Regions from separate parts of the Homo sapiens genome. Here all the other regions are reported to be linked to region 1. The links are microRNA targets in miRTarBase. Many come from high-throughput screens and were not tested one by one. Region 1 holds a microRNA gene; each other region holds the end of a gene's coding sequence. Distances are from middle to middle.
What was found. The annotated mature microRNA hsa-miR-7162-3p reads UCUGAGGUGGAACAGCAGC and lies in region 1 at 1,604-1,622, opposite strand. An mRNA with a match to its seed (bases 2 to 7 or 8) in the 3' UTR can be bound and repressed. Matches are read on the target gene's strand: a 7mer-m8 pairs with bases 2 to 8, a 7mer-A1 pairs with bases 2 to 7 and ends in A, and an 8mer does both.

Region 1 (4,000 bases):
CTAAGTGTGCTATATGACTAATACTTTCCATGTATTATCTCATTTAATCCTCAGCACCTCTGCAAGGAAAATGCTAACTTCCTTTTGAAGTTAAAGGAACAGAGACTTAGAGATGCAAAGTGGTTGAATGGCGACCAGTGGAACTGAGGCTGGAATCTAGTTTGAATCTAAGGAGACTTTTTTGTTTTTGTTTTGTTTTGTTTCGTTTTGCGACAGAGTGTCACTCTGTGGCCCAGACTAGAGTGCAGTGGTGCAATGTCAGCTCACTGCAACCTCCACCTCCCAGGCTCAAGCGATTCTCATGCCTCAACTTCCTGAGTAGTTGGGATTACAGGCATGCGCCACCATGCCCGGCTAGTGTGTGTGTGTGTGTGTGTGTGTGTGTGTGTGTGTGTGTGTGTGTGTGTGTGTGTGATATTGGTAGAGATGAGGTTTTGCCATGTTATCCAGACTGGTCTCAAACTCCAGACCCCAAGTGATTCTCCTGCCTCAGCCTCCCAAAGTGCTGGGATTACAGGCGTGAGCCACCATGCCTGACATAAGGAGCCTCTTATACCACGACTCCTCCCCTGTGATTGGGGGGCTCCATGCCTCTAGCTGGGATGATGATGTCCACACCTGGGAGGAGCCCAGGGCTACCCACCTCTAAAAGTCAGAGGGCAGGAAGCAAGAAACAGTCACAGGACTGCCCTGGAGGGAGCTGGGGTCACCTGCCCCCGGGCTGGAGCTGCTTTTGGCCTCACACCTCCCCTCCCCAGAGGCTGGTGCTCACCTCCCAGCCCTTCTTGGATGGGCAGAGGTTACAGTCTCCTTCAGCTTGCCCAGCTTCTCCTGCAGCTCCTTTACTTGCTGCTCCAACTGTAGTGCACTCTTATTCTCGTTGTTCTGGACAGAGAGAAGCAATCAGTGGCCACCCACTGCAGCTGGAGACCCCAGAACTTGGTGTCTGCCTCCCATGGCACCAGGAAGGGTGGAGGCAGGTTAGAAAAATTATCCCCTCTCTCCCACAGCCATCAGAGCAGGGCTCTGGCTCACAGGTGCCTTTAGAAGTACCATTTCACGTGAGGGCTACACTGCCCCATCTTACAGGTGGGGAATCAAAGGCCTGGAGGGCAAGGGAGGAGGGCAGGCTCACGAGGCGGGGCAACGCACCAGCTCCTCTAAGCCGCTCTGTGGCCCAGCCAGCTGCTAGTCGAGCTCATGGTTCTGAGAGAGCACGTGGTTGATGGTGGTGTGGTTCCGCAGGGCCTGCATGCACGTCTCTGCCTGCTCCTCCCAGAGCTTGGCTTTCCGCCCCAGCTCGAGCAGCCTGTCCTCCTGCTCCGCAGCCTCTCCTCCCACTCCCGTAGCCTCTCCTCCCGCTCCCGCAGACTCTCCTCCCGCTCCCGCAGACTCTCCTCCCGCTCTCCCAGCCTCTCCTACTCCTGCAGCTTCTCCTCCAGCTCCTGCAGCCTCTCCTGCTCCCGCAGCGTCTCCCGTTCCAGCAGCCTCTCCTCCTGCTCCCAGTTCAGGTGACTCAAGCCTTGATTGTTTTGCACCTGAGCTTGGAGCTGTCCTGCCAGACTCTCCTGCTCCTTCCTCGGGTGCTCGGCCTCAGCTTGTAGCTGCTGTTCCACCTCAGAGGGCCCTGCTGGGGGCTCCAGGGGCAGGGGTTCAGCTGAGAAAGGAAGCAGACAACAAGGGCCTCTGGGTTAACAAAACAAAACAAAACAAAACAACAAATAAAAGCCCTTCTCTTGGTGCACAGATCCTCTCAGGCTCCCCAAACTTGGCCTCACTGCTAACGATTCCTCGCTCTCGGATGGTAGCCAATCTTCCAAGCCACTTTCAGATAGAGAGCACTGTGGGTGGCTGACAATGAGCACTCCTCCCTCTTTGTTGATGGCGACACTGAGGTTCATGGAGATTATAAGACTTGCCGTCTCCTGGCACAGACCTCTTTCCCTCTGCCTCAAAGCCCTTCCATCTACCCACCTCCCTGGGGCATTCTAAGCCATCCCCACAGCCCTCTGATGCCAGTCCTGCTCCCAGGCCATGCCAGCCCCATCTTACCCATCTAGTTTTTGAGTTCGGCCAAGCTCCTCTCCAGCTCCTGTACCCGATGCCTGTCATGCTTCTTCTCCTCCTTCCATGTGCAAACCTGCCCAAAGCACGGGGGACAGGGCCCTGGAGAGAGGGGCTGGTGGTTGGACAGGCTACCAACTCCCTCTCTGCCTCCACCTCTACAAAGCCCAGACCCATGACCACCTCTGGCTGTACTATTCCCATTTTACAGATGGCCAGAAAGATCCAGTGACCTATCTAAAGTGGGGGGCTTAAGGGTCAGGTCTCACCTCCTCTGACATTTTCCATACCCTCTGCTGCCACCGGGCCCTCTCTCCTTTTAGATGTTGAGTATATTCATCTGTCTCTAGCTGGACTTGTTCCAACATCTGCAAGAATGGGCACAGAAGTTAGGAAAGGCTGTCACTGGTCCTCACCTGCTCCTGGCCACCTGGCGTCATCTTCCTCCCACATCCCTCCCTCTACAAAGCTTCACCTGTGTCACGTGTGCTTCCAGCTGTGCCCGAGCCTTTATGGACTGCCATAACTGCCGCTTGAGGACTGCTTCACAGCGGCTCGAGGACTGTATGGTGAAGAGTGAGAAGTTTCGATCTGGGGAGCCTGGGCCGTTCCACACAGTGCCCCTTAAAAGGGCTAGGGTTAGGCTCAATATACAACTTGGTCAGTAAAGGTCAAGGCATTTCTAAGCCTGTGGTCTGGTTTTTAAAAGAACTCAGTAAAGTTGGAAGGGACAGGGAAAAAGATCGAATTTACAGCTGGCTAACAGAGGCCCAGAGAGATCAGATAATATTGCTGTTGTTATTACTGTTATTACTACCACTGTTTGAATGTTTATTGAGTGCTTCGCCAGTTACCATGCTAACGATCCCACTGAATCCTCATAACCACCATATGAGACAGTTACTATGATTACCTCTATTATTAGTATTAGAGTTACTATTAGAGTATTAGAGTTTCTATTATTAGTATTAGAGGTTAAGTGCTTGCCTAAGGTCACTTAGACAGAGCTGGGATTTGAATACCCAGGTCTATCCTATTCTCTAAGCCCATTTTTCTTGCTGGGGGTTGGGGCACAGATAGGAAGGGGGAAATTAATCTTTTATTCATTTTTTGAAAGGATGATACATTCACATAGTCCACAACTCAGAAGGTACAGACGGGAAGTATCTCCCAGCCACCCTGTTGCTCTCTGCTGAATTTTTTACAAATCCTTGCAGACATGTTTTATGTATATTATCATAGTACGTACGTACACACACACACACACACGTTCCCCCTCTCTACACAAATGGTAACATACTAAAGGTACTCTTCTGTACCTTCACAGTACAAGTATGCAATCCCCCACCTAGGACTTTGTCAAGGCCACAGCCAGGTAACAGCAGGGTGGGCACTTGGCCTCCAAGCTCTGCATCCAGTGCTCGCTCCCCACAGTGCCCCGCAACTAACCCACAGCAGCTGACTCAGCCCCAGGCTGCCTCTAACAACCACACACAAAAGCAGCAAGAAATGGCCATGCTGCCTTCTGGGCAGGACATTCCACCCTGCAGCAAAGAGGGCAGTAACAGAAGAGCCATGCTGCATGCTCCATGCTCTGGGGTCCCTCAGGGTGAGGCCTGGGCACCCCAGCTCCCCATTTACCCTTAGCACCAGAGGCCCCCAGACCCTTTCTTCAGGGCCCCAAAGGGAAACTGAAGCCCAGGATTGGCAGTGTGGAATCAGGGGACCCCACTGGACTCTTAGCAATGACTCGGTGTTTTCATTGAGTTGATTGATTGTTGTGGAGCTCAAGTCCAGGGCTACTGCTAGTTCTTGGTACTGGCTCTGAGGCACATGCAGAGAGGAGGAATTGGAGGAGGATTGCGGGGAGAGGTAGAGAGAACAATCATTAGGGCTGGGGTGTGTGTGGGCTGTCTCAGCTGGCAGAGGGGCACTC
Region 2 (4,270 bases), not on the chromosome of region 1:
CAAGTCACATCCATTTGTCATCAGCTGCGAGCAGGGTGGTGGTGGTTCTCAGACAGGACATGGGGTTGTATCCTGTCTTTGGCTTTCAATTATACTACAAATCCACCCTTCCCCACACCCAGAGTTCATCACCCCACAAAACTCTGTAGTGCACACATCAGAATGAGCAATGGTGATGCCACACAGAGTGGTAGGGAAATGACTAGCTTTGAAAGCAAAATTTTACTTGCCTTCAGCTTAACTTTTTTTGAATTTGGCATTATTTCTCCTGATATTTATTTCTCATTTCAGCACTTCAGAAGCATAACTACAGCCTGCAGCATGTCTGCACGTGTGCATGCATACACACCGGGTTGACAGATAGAGAAAACTGGGTTTGAACCAAATGCCGTAGTGACTTGCTGTGGACCAAGTCCTTCCATCTAATAGAAGCTCCAGGGGCTCCTTCCCATTCAGACCTCTCTAGACTATAGTCTATGCTTAGAGATCTTGTCTGGTTATGGCCATTGTTTTTTACTACTTTGATCACTTAACTTATAGACCTTTTTTGACACTGCCAGTCTCACTTGTGGCCTATTTCTCTGCTTCTTCCAGGAATTTGCTTTTATTAGTCAAGTATAGGGGCTGCCAGGTTCTGTGTCTCCATAGATATATGTGCTTCTTTTCCTATAGCTAAATGTATAATAAACAGGAACCTGACCTTTACCTCCTTTCAGCTGTTTCAAACAGGTGCCAGGATACCTATGTCTTAGAATTAGAGTTTCTTCAAATTGATTCATTGATTTCTCAAGTATGGATTATGTGAAAGAGCCCAGGGACATTATCCATTACAGTTTAACTCTTTCATTTAAAGGTCCAGAGAGGCAAGTGAATTGTCTAAGTTCATATATTAGGTCAGTGACTGAAGGGACCAAGAACGCAGACCTGATTTCCAAGCCAAGACTCCCATGCTGCCTCATTTGTATTCAAGCCTTTAACAGGAGGGCAAAGAGGTGAGAATGTGTTAAAAAAAAAAAAAAAAAGGCAGAGCATGGGAGGAATATTCTCTGGAGATGGATGCTAGGATGATTTGGGTAGCTCTCCCTCCTGTGTGCCAAGCCCAGTAAAAGTTCCTTGCCCCAAACTGTCACATTTAGGCCCTCATCTTGGTGCCTAAAAACGAGCGTACAAAGATGAATGAAATGGTTTCTCACTGTGAACCTCTTGGAGGAAAGGAGGAACCACAGACAGAGGAATATTAATCCCTCTCTGATATGGAATTGAAGGCTTAAGTAAATCAGAGTGTCACTGTCAGACGTTGATTACTCCCAAGATCCGATCAGCATTTCTGCCCATCCTATTATGTGTCTGTCAAGGACTGAAGTAGCTGGAAACCAGGAGTAGAGAAAGATGGGGGGAAAAAAAGAGCAAGGCCAGAATAGAAGGGAGTAGACTGAGTAGAATCAGTTGGTGGAGAGGCCTATCTAGATAAACCTTTCTGGGAGGCAGGGAATGACATTTTCAGGCAGGGAATTGAGATGTTCAGTTCTGTCCTGATACAAGGAAAGAGGCAGAGCAGGAGCCGGCAATGTTAAGGACAACTTTTTATAACTGCCCAGTATTTCCTGACCCCTGTCAAAGGTTGGGGAGAATACAAGGTTTCTTGAAGCTTTTTGACTGGGGTGTCACATTAGGCACACAGGTGTCTATAATGGAATCTCCCCTTCAGTTTGGTCATAGAAGTGCTTGGACAAGTCAGAAAAATAGCTAGCTGTGGGTATCCCTTTAAGATATTCCCAAGTCTACCCTGTGTCATAGCAGTAGTTCTCAGAGTGTTTGTTTAAAGGATCCCACTTTGAACTTTGCCAAGTACTACCAACTACCTTGTCTGGTGTTCAGCAACTGCCCCTACTGAACAGCCCTTTGGAACTCTGAATGATTTGGGCCTCACAGAAGCTCCCTAAAGCCTAGGAACTTGGTGACTATCATTTGAACAACTAGGCAGCCATACTGCAGTCAGTTGTCATGGGGTCATTCCCTAGGCCCCCTTCCTATCAGCCTCTACCTAAAGAAGCTAGATAGGAAGCTAAGCACAGCCATGGTTGGGAGGCTATATCTAAAGCTCATGAGGGGTGATCCCGGGGTTACCAGCCTTCAGCACTCCCTCTAGCAACACCCCATTCTCTTACCTAGCGGGGATTTGTACCTTTCCACTGAGGCCTCTCCATGCTCCTTCCCTACCTTTCATGGCAATACTTTGGCCTGCCTCTTATCCTGGTACTAAGTTGAAGTAAAGCTCACCCTTTACTTCCCTACTTGAAAGTTCTACTCTGAGCCTTGACTCTTAGCCACAGTGAGGCATGTTGAAGGTTCCTGCTGGTTTATTCTTTTTTTTTTTTTTTTTTTAGACAGAGTCTCACTCTGTTGCCCAGGCTGGAGTGCAGTGGCACGATCTCGGTTCACTGCAAGCTCCGCCTCCCGGGTTCATGCCATTCTCCTGCCTCAGCCTCCCAAGTAGCTGGGACTACAGGCACCTGCCACCACGCCTGGCTAATTTTTTGTATTTTTAGTAGAGACGGGTTTCACCGTGTTAGCTAGGATGGTCTCGATCTCCTGACCTTGTGGTCCGCCCACCTCAGCCTCCCAAAGTGCTGGGATTACAGGCGTGAGCCACCGCACCCGGCCTTCATTCACTTTCTTTAAATGCCTCCAAGTTGATTATTCTCCTAGCTCATATCTCCTTGATGTGCATGAGGGAGCACTGGGTCTAATTTTTGGGGGCTGAGAAGGTAAGAAGGTGAGGTCAGTTTTTCCCAGGAGTCCTAAAAAATTCTGGTACCTTACATTGAGGGTGTGGGAGAAAGGGTGTCATAGTTCTGAAAATAGGCAGTAGCATGAAGCACCAGACCTGTCTCATTCCTTATTAGATGTCTATCTCAAATAACAGAGTTTGAAAAATATTGGTTTTATCATTTGATATTTCCATGCCTGACTCGGGAAAATAACATTTTCTGACTTCTTTCTATTTTCTTGCCCTGCACAGACCCTACCTGGTACAATTTTCTATTTCTTAGCTCAAAGTGTCTATACAATGGGTTGCCTGGTATGTCAGCTGCCCTCACTCTTGTGTAATAGAAATATATTGCCAGGCTGGGGACGTGGAGGAGACGAACTGGATTCCTCCCTCCTCCTGTTGCCAGGCCTCTCTGCATTGGCACTTTATCCTTTCAGTGTTTCTGGCTGTGTTGGGTTCATTTGTGAGACTGATGTAACAATAAAGTGAAATCTTCCCCTCTGTGTGCTTGTCTGACAAAGTCTTTGTGTCAGGGCTCCAGTCTGGAAGGTGGGGGAGACTAGGTAAAGTCTAATTGCATCAGCATTTTTCTCTTAGGGTCTCCTGTTCCTCCATTGCTACTGGCCCTTCAGGTGTCTCTTACTGACTGTATGTCGAGCACATTAGCAAACCTCACTGAGCTTGGTTTTGTAATCTATAAAACAGAAGTAATAAAAGTGCTTACCTCACAGTGTCAAATAAGAAAATCCATATAGAGTGGTTGGCATATGGTAGTCACTCAGAACTTCATATACGGGAACAATCTTTTATGGTGGACCTGTCAGCAGTCCGAGAGAACACTTCTAGAAAAGGAAATATAGCTGGACGCGGTGGCTCACACCTGTAATCCCAGCACTCTGGAAGGCTGAGGCTGGAGGATTACTTGAGCCCACGAGTTCAAGACCAGCCTGGACCACATAGCAAGACCCCCTTCTCTACAATTTTTTTTTTTAATTAGCCGGGAGTGGTGGCATGCACCTGTAGTCCCAGCTACTTGAGAGACTGAGGCAGGAGGATCACTTGAAGCCTGGAGGTCTAGGCTGCAGTGAGCCATGATTGAGCCACTGTACTCCAGCCTGGGCGACAGGGCAAGACCCTGTCTCAAACAAACAAACAAAAAAAAAAAAAAAAAAAGGAAATATTTAGTTCAAACAAATAGGAGAGGTTTGGGAAGGGAAAGAGTTGAATGAACCTTAATATATAGTTAAAGTCATTGTCCAAATGGCATCTCAAATAAATGTATTTTCAAGATGATGGAAACTTACCTTTTAAGTATTGATGTTTTTTTTTTTTTTTTAACAACTAATTCAACTCTGTTTATTTTTGACGAAACCGATTTCTTTCATTCAGTTCATACTACGCGTCCACACTGTGCCTCCAAAAATATTTGCCCTTATAACTGAATGCTCAGAAAGGCTAAGAAATCTGCCCAAGGTCCCCTGGCAATCCAGCCAGAGA
Region 3 (4,270 bases), 23 Mb from region 1:
GTTCTTAAGCTTCATTTAGAGAGTTTTGAATAATGATAATAAAATTTCTGAAAGCTTCAACTATTCTATATTAAAGCACACAGAGAAACAGTTTCCTAAAGGGCACATTATAGACAACAGTTGTAATGATGGAAACTCAATCCTAGAATATTAAAATTAACAGACCTAGCCCTTTAGGTACTGTGTAGGTGTTTGCAGAAAATAGGATAGCCAGGAGCAGTGGCTCACTCCTGTAATCCCAGCACTTCAGGAGGCCGAGCCAGGCAGATCACTGAGGCCAGGAGTTCGAGACCAGCCTGGGCAACATGGCAAAACCCTGTCTCTACTAAAAATACAAAAATCAGCCAGGCATGGTGTAGTCCCAGTTACTTGGGAGGCTGAGGTGGGAGGATGGCTTGAGCCCAGGAGGTGAAGTTTGCAGTAAGTCAAGATCCTGCCACTGCACTCCAGCCTGGGCGATAAGAGCCAGACCTCATCTCAAAAAAAAAAGCAGTTTGAATTATGTAATAAACCTTACCAGTGGTCATTTATCACTGTAATTCCACTGTGTTATGCCACTTAGCAAAAGGAGAGGACAGAAGTTGGGGGAAAATTTCAAGCTTACTCTTTGATTCCTTCCTACATGTCTAAACCACACAGCATGGTACACTCACCTTTCCAGATTTATCTTGCCTTTCTCGTTCTCTGTATTAGCAGTTTTCAGAATGTGCATTTGAACAGATTTTGGTCTTTGCTTTTTCTGCTTCCTTGGCCTGAAATGCCTTCCCTCCCCACCAGTTAGCTCTAGTAGTTTAATTTCTACTGTTGGTCACTGGTCCTTGAGGACTGTTTAGACCTCCCTTCCTCCAAGCTGGACGGCCTTCTCAGTCCCCTTCATCTGTCCCCAAATTGAGTCACTGTCCCTCTTGTGGCTCACCAATTGTAACTTACCACATTCTGTCATTTGCTTGTGTTCCCTCCAGACTGTAAGCTCCTGCAAGGAGGCGTTTTGTTATTGTATCCTCAGAGAGTCAGAGTGCCAGTACACAGAAGAGCACCACTAAAGGCTACAGGGAGCTGATGATTAATTTTACATAGAGCAGACATTTAACCAAGAATATAGCACTTACTCCCTGTCAGATTCTCGATATTTTAAAATATTAGCTCATTTAATCCTAACAATCTTTTAATCTCCATCTTATAGATCATAAAACTGAAAGATTAAGTAACTTGCCCAAGGTCACAGCTGTTAAGGGCTGAGCTAGTATTCCAGTTCAGACACAGATTATTCTTACTTATGTTGACTGATTTCAAATTCCTGCTTTTCCTCCTTCCATGATGTCTAGGACACTCAAATCACCCTCACAAATGTGTTCTGCTCTCCTAGAAACTGGAGGTGGGTCAAGCCAAGCTTAGAAGCAAAATACAAAACAGGATGGGCATGGTGGCTCACACCTGTAATTCCAGCACTTTGCAGGGCTAAGGAGGATCACTTGAGCCCAGGAGTTCAAGACCAGACTGGGCAAAATAGCAAGACCCCATCTCTAAAAAAAAAATTTTTTTTTAAATTAGCCAGGTATAGTGGCGTGCACACACACACACACACATACACACAGCCTCCAGAGGCACGTGGTTCGTTGCTAACATTCCCAAAAGGTATCTTGTACTGGTTCACACTACACCTCCATCTGATTCCTCAGTTGTGAGCTGTTTCTTTCTCCTAGTCTCAGCCACCAACCCCTTCAGAAGTGGCTCCTGAAAACTTTGAGGGGAGTTAGAAAATGACTTTGAAGCTCTGGTCAGTTCACTGAACCTTTTTATTCATTACCACGAATATAGCTGTAAATATTTAAAGAATCCATTCTAAATACATGCATTCATTTGTTTTTAAAAGAGGAGCTTGTTAAGAATGGGTTTTATATTGTTTATAATTTTATGTATTTTGGAATTTATATATTACTTTTGTAATTAAAAAAAACCCAAAAAACTAAGTTATCAATTTTAAACAAATAGGGAAAAGCCTGAAATTTTGGCATGGCCAACTCAGAGTGTGGAGTCAACGCAGGCATCTAATCTTAATTGTGATCTAAATGTGAGTATCGTACTTTTCTCAGTGTTTAGAAAAGATGTTTTAAATAATTTAGAGTAAGTATATGCTTGCAATTTTGTATCCAGAATTCCAAGCAAATGCTTCCTGTGGCATTTTTTTTTTTTTTTTGGAACAGAGTCTTACTCTGTTGCCCAGGCTGGAGTACAGTGGCGCGATCTCAGCTCACTGCAACCTCTGCCTCCCAGGTTTAACCGATTCTCCTGCCTCAGCCTCCTGAGTAGCTGGGATTACAAGTGTGCACCATTTTTGTATTTTGTTTTGTTTTTAGTAGAAACAGGGTTTCACCATGTTGGCCAGGCTAGTCTCAAATTCCTGACCTCCAGTGATCCACCTTGAGTCTCAGTCTCCCAAAGTGTTAGGACTGCAGGCATGAGCCACCGTGCCTGGTCTTGTTGACTGTTCTTTAAGGCTGTAATAAGGCACAGAACTGGGCTGAGGCTGTGGCTGCAGCCCTTTCCCTCTACGTTGTCCCCATAGAGGCTAGACATTTTAAGGTCAGTGGAGCACTACCAAATCAAAAGAGCCTCTTAAATTGTCTTCTACTAAAAAATTTTAATAGTAGCATATTAATATTTTTAAATGTTTTAGTATCATCTCATTTCAAAAACTATATCTATTGTTCTTATATATAAGAAAAACAATGATTTTATTTTAAGTTGTTTATTTTAAGATAATTTACAAATATCTTGCTGTCTTCAGTAATTCAAATAATGGAGGAACAGTTTCTTCGGACAAAGGCAGCAGTAAGCTAAAAACAAAATCAACTGGCTGAATTTTCCTTCTTTACCTGAAAAACAAAGTACAGAACAAGTAAGAAATCAAACAGCATTTTTTGGGAAAATAATGTCAAGAGATAATAATACATATTTAAGTGGGGTACAGAGAACTGAATTTACACAATAAAGTGTTACCCTATACCAGTGATTCTAAAATTTTGGTCTGGGGAACCTTTCATGGGGTTCATGAGGTCAAAACTATTTTCATGATAATGTTATTTTGCCTGTTATATTCTCATTCTCGAGTATACAGTAGAGTTTTCCAGAGGCCACATGATCCATGACATCACAACAAAATGAATAGAGACAGATGAAAATCTAGCTGGCTTCTGCTACATGAATCAGACATTAAGGGGTCCAGAGACCATAAAGTGTGACAACCACCACTCTTCACAACCTATATATAATATCTCAAAATAATGTTAATTCTCTATCCTCAAAGTTTATTTCCTTATATCTACATTTTCTATGATCAACACACTCACTACAAAAAAGTCCACTAGCGTTGCCCAGGTGCTCCCGTGAGTTGGCTGCTACTGTGAAGTGGCCCATCCATCTAAATCTCTCAGAGGACAATTCTAGGATTACTAAATTAGCTTAACTTATATCTGAATAGGTTTCTTTTCTGAACAGACATGGGAAGAATGTGTGAACTTTACCTCTTGTCTGAGGATGGAACTTGATTTTCATTAATCCCTGGTTATTATATTAGAAGAAAAAGACAAACACAAAACAAGCAGGTCAAGAAGCAATCCATGCTAGTTAATCACATATGCTTTCCAATGAAAAAAAGTCAATTGTTAAACTTGATACCTTGAGTACATCATGCAAAAATACTTACCACAAGATTCCTTTGAAACAGACTCAATGACTGTTATAAAAAGTCATAGATTTCAATCCAGGTTAGAAGCAATAAAAACATGCTCATGCAAGTAGGCAAGACTATGAATATGTAATTTAAATTACAATTTTTCTATAAATTAACACAATATATTTAGAGGTTTTTTTTTTTTTTGGAGATGGAGTCTTGTTCTGTTGCCCAGGCTGGAGTGCAGTGGCGTGATCTCAGCTCACTGCAACCTCCTCCTGGGTTCAAGTCATTCTCCTGCCTCAGCCTCCCGAGTAGCTGGGATTACAGGTGCCCGCCACCACGCCCAGCTAATTTTTGTACTTTTTTAGTAGAGACGGGGTTTTGCCATGTTGGCCAGGCTGGTCTGGAACTCCTGACCTCAGGTGATCCACCCGCCTCGGCCTCCCAAAGTGCTGGGATTACAGGCATGAGCCACTGCGCCTGGCCATATTTAGTTTTTAGGCTGGCAACTAATACTTGGACCTCGAATACTATGGTTTACTCATGTTCTTAATTATATTACTAAATAGCCAAATATGTTTATTTTGTTTTTTG
Region 4 (4,270 bases), not on the chromosome of region 1:
CTCATATTTCTAACAGTTCTCACTTTATATATTTCATAGCATGTGGGCATGTCTACATAAGTTTGTGATCAAAATGTTAAATTCTATTCTGATTAGCTTTCTCAGTCCAATCTGAGCACCTCAATCTATTTTTAGGTAAATTTAATCCACTTATATTTCTTTTGACTGTTGATATGTTTGGATGTTTGTCCCCTCCAAATCTCATGTTGAAATGTGATCCCCAATATTGGAGGTGGGGCCTGGTGGGAGGTGTTTAGGTCATGGGGGGCAGATTCCATCGTGCTTAGATTGCTTGGTGCTGTCCTCAGGATGAGTGGGTTCTCCCTGTGAGTTCACACGAGATCTGGTTGTTTAAAAGTGTGTGGCACCTCCCCACCTCTCTCTTGCTCCTGCTCTCACAATGTGTCTGCCCCCCTTCACCTTCCACGGTGATTGGAAGCTTCCTGAAGCCTTCACCAGGAGCAGATGCCAGCACCATGCTTCCTATACAGCCTGCAGAACCGTGAGCCAATAAACCTCTTATAAATTACCCAGTCTCAGGTATTCCTTTATAGTAACATACAAATGGACACACACACCTGCCATCTAATTTTGTTTCTTATTTGCCAAGATTTCCTGTTGTTCTCCCCATCCCCAACTGTTCTTTCCTTATGTTGGATTTCATTGATGTGGTGTTTGCTGTCTTCCCTTTAATGTTTTAGATGTTGGACATCCTTTCTTTTCTCCCAGTGGTCATCCGAAATGCTTAACATGCATATTTAAATGTTCCTTTTCTACCAGCATATTAATCAGTGCTGACCCTGTAAATCAAAAATTTCAGCTCGACTTCACTATTTTCTTAGTTTCTCCATCACTGATCACTCCCACCCCTGCTCCCATGTTGAGATCATTGCGGGTATGAGAGATTCATTCATTCACTGAGTGGGCAATGAATGAGCACATACCAGGAGCTGGGCAAATTCAAAGCTCTGGGCATGCAGCACTGAATGTTTCTTACAGAATTCCTACCTTCACAGAAGGAGACAAAAATAGCAAAAATGTATTCTATGTTAGTAGTTCCCCAGTATGGGATGGCCTCATTGGGAAGGTGACTTACGAGTAGCAAGAAAACATCAGGGTGTGGGAGAGTCCAAGGGATGAGCACTCCTGGCATGAGAGGCAGCAGGCCTGAGTGGGCACTTGCCTGGCAGGGTCCAGGGAGCTGATGGGGAGTGAGCAAGGGGGCCACTGGCCTTAGCCATGGCCGCATGCTTAGCCCAGGTCAGTGGAGCATGGGAAGCACGGCGGGAAGCGCTGCAGGGAATCAACCAGGCTGGCTGCTCCAAACCGCTCCCCCTGGTGATCATCCAGACAAATGCCCCAGGTCCCTTCCACTCTTTGCAGCCACCGTGAAGCTCAGAGTCCCCCCAAACTTTCTTCCCTTGGTGGCAGGCTTCTCTGCACATTCTGAGCTGGTTTCCTCCATATTTGTTCTCCTGCACGTCCAATGCAGTCTGCCTTTTTATCCTCAGGAATTCTGCAACATGTTAATATATTCCACTTTTATGGTTTTATTCTTATTTCTTTTCCAAAACTATCCATTTTAAGCAGCTAGTCCCCAGAGATGACTAGCCACACTACCTTATCTCGAAACAGTGCTATGAATACTCACCAACAAAACAATACATGCATTATAAGTTTTATTTATAAGACTGGAACAGACAAGAATATTAGTTTGAGGGTTTTTTCCAATTTAAATTAACTAATAAAGTGGGGAGAATGACACAAAAGCTGCTATTTACAAAAGACAAGTATATGATTAAAGAAGGTCAGTTTTTATTCCAAAATAGGAATAATGAGATATACAAAGTAATCATTTTATAAACATTGATCTAAATATTTAATACTCGCGGACTTTTTTTCTTAGGAAAAAAAGATTGACATCAACTCTTCGGCATCATCTTTTACAATCATTTATTCTTGGATTGTTATCCATTAGAGTGCTTATAAATGTCTAGGATAGATGTGTAAGAATGCATTCTGAGGCCAGGCGCAGTGGCTCATGCCTGTAATCCCAGCACTTTTGGAGGATGAGGTGGGCAGATCACCTGAGGCCAGGAGTTCACAAGACCAGCCTGGCCAACCTGGCGAAACCCCATCTCTACTAAAAAAAAAAAATACAAAAATTAGCTGGGCATGGTGGTGGGCGCCCATAATCCCAGCTACTCGGGAGGCTGAGGCTGGAGAATCACTTGAACCCAGGAGGCAGAGGTTGCAGTGAGCCGAGGTCATTGCACCATTGCACTCCAGCCTGGGCAGCAAGAGTGAAACTCCGTCTCCGAAAAAAAAAAGAATGCATTCTGATGATTAAATTGAACTGTCTTTAAACTTTTCCTTCAAGTTATGGGCCACTTCAAAAACAGTGTGGCATTGAGGGTAGGCAAGTGGGAGAAGGGAGACCTGGACTGCAGAGTCCAGAAGCCAGAACTTTGAACTGTGCTTCTAGCTCTTTCCAGCAGTGAGAACTTGGAAAGGTAGACTCTTTGCATCTCAACCTTCTCATCTTTCAAAGGGGATGAATAATTCCAATCACACAAGAAAGGACTGAACAAGATGAACAAGATGATCACTGTCCAGGCGCCGGGCAATGGGTGGCCTCTCAACTGTGGCTTTAAAAACCATTCTGGGGCAGGCACGGTGGCTCACGCCTGTAATCCCAGCACTTTGGGAGGCCGAGGCGGGCGGATCACGAGGTCAGGAGATCGAGACCATCCTGGCTAACATGGTGAAACCCCGTCTCTACTAAAAAATACAAAAAATTAGCCGGGCGTGGTGGTGGGCGCCTGTAGTCCCAGCTACTCGGGAGGCTGAGGCAGGAGAATGGTGAGAACCCGGGAGGCGGAGCTTGCAGTGAGCCGAGATCGCACCACTGCACTCCAGCCTGGGTGACAGAGCTAGAGTCCATCTCAAAAACAAAACAAAACAAAACAAAACAAAACAAAACCATTCTGTCAGTCTGTGAAGGGGTGAGCCCTAAGAAATACATCTCCCTGCCTCCTTCTCTCTTCTGTTCCCACCTCCTCTCTAGTCAAGTGAGATTCTTCCCTGAGGAACCAAACATTAGTAAGAGAAAATGAGCTACTTCAGCAACTGAAAACTAAACTCTAGTAAACTACAGTCATAAGTCTAGTTCTCATCAACTATTTTATATATCACTTTGGTTGTTTTCATTGTCTGTTTCAAGTAAGCAATGTGGTCCTTTCTCCTTTGTAAGGCTAATTTTAGGTCAACCTCTGTTAGCCTTATTTCCTCCCCGCCAACTCCCCCCCCAAAAAACCCTTTTAGTTTTAAAGAAAGCTTCTTTGCATTTTTGCCCTTTCTAAGAGGTAGGGTATTTACCCTATATTATTTTAATAGGATCATATTTGCTCTGAAGTAAATCAATTTGTTTAACTTTATTAAATTTGATGCCTTTGGGCTAGCCTCTGAAACAGCAAACTTATAGGCAATTAAATAATTGTTATTAAAACGATCTACTTATTTTTTCTTGTCTCCAGCCTTTACAGTTAAAATGTTCCTTTGGAATATTGCTTTGTAGGAGGTTACAGGGGAACCTACTTGGCTGAAATCCCATCTACTGAAATACTGGCACCGCTACAAAATAACCCAAGATTCTTTAGAACTAAGAGAAAAAAATCAGGTTTGTCCATGGAAGCACACGAATGGCAGGACAGGAAGTAAATCTTTGTTCCTCGTGAAATGGGCTTTAAAACAGCCCAGAGCAATGGGCTGGCCCAGAACTTGGGAGTCTCAAGTTTTCATTCTCACCCACTGCGGAGTCTTCCTGGCTCCCAGGACCACGGCCTCGGGGGCCCATGTGTACTAGGAGGGGCTGCACCTGGACAGTCCCTGGGGTCCATTCCAGTCAAACGCCCCACCGTTCCAGGCCTCCCTTTAGCCTCAACAGCATGAGGGCTCTGAGCACTCATCTCTTCAGAAAACTCGCCGCTGTCTTCCTCAGATGTGTCGTCCCGTCAGAAAAAAGAGCGGCCGGTCTTCCCTGGCATTGGCGGTCTGGAACTCATCGCGCAGCCGGAACTGCCACTCGTCCTCGAGCTCCAGGCGGACGACCGTCTGGCGCAGTGAGCTCCGGTCCTGACAGATGACACACAACGTCGCACCTGCGTGGACAACGGCAGAGGTGTGGGAAGGGAAAAGGTGAGTTTATCCAGAGGAAAGCGGCTGCCCGGATTCTACTTGCAATGACAAGACAGGGCGCTGTTGGGAAGGG

Region 2: miRTarBase lists NRIP3 as a target of hsa-miR-7162-3p. Seed matches in the 3' UTR shown: 7mer-m8 at 2,612-2,618.
Region 3: miRTarBase lists ATP5F1C as a target of hsa-miR-7162-3p. Seed matches in the 3' UTR shown: 7mer-A1 at 3,531-3,537.
Region 4: the mRNA of GREB1 is a reported target of hsa-miR-7162-3p. Seed matches in the 3' UTR shown: 7mer-A1 at 2,019-2,025.

The regions. Positions count from the first base shown.
Region 1 is chr10:30,366,994-30,370,993 of GRCh38, forward strand. MIR7162 (microRNA 7162) reads right to left here and starts at 1,672; the gene lies at 1,604-1,672. It also overlaps the pseudogene GOLGA2P6.
Region 2 is chr11:8,979,582-8,983,851 of GRCh38, reverse strand. NRIP3 (nuclear receptor interacting protein 3) reads left to right here. Exons shown (of 7, transcript NM_020645.3): 7 at 292-3,276. The coding sequence ends at 307. Among named protein-coding and RNA genes, the nearest start is that of TMEM9B-AS1, 17 kb to the right of the region's middle.
Region 3 is chr10:7,806,265-7,810,534 of GRCh38, reverse strand. It overlaps ATP5F1C (ATP synthase F1 subunit gamma), which reads right to left. Exons shown (of 10, transcript NM_001001973.3): 9 at 3,525-3,561; 10 at 2,734-2,876. The coding sequence ends at 3,555. It overlaps LOC105376392 (a long non-coding RNA gene), which reads left to right. Exons shown (of 3, transcript XR_001747356.1): 2 at 1,993-2,071. Among named protein-coding and RNA genes, the nearest start is that of TAF3, 10 kb to the left of the region's middle.
Region 4 is chr2:11,640,181-11,644,450 of GRCh38, reverse strand. It overlaps GREB1 (growth regulating estrogen receptor binding 1), which reads right to left. Exons shown (of 33, transcript NM_014668.4): 33 at 1,663-4,160. The coding sequence ends at 3,997. Among named protein-coding and RNA genes, the nearest start is that of NTSR2, 28 kb to the left of the region's middle.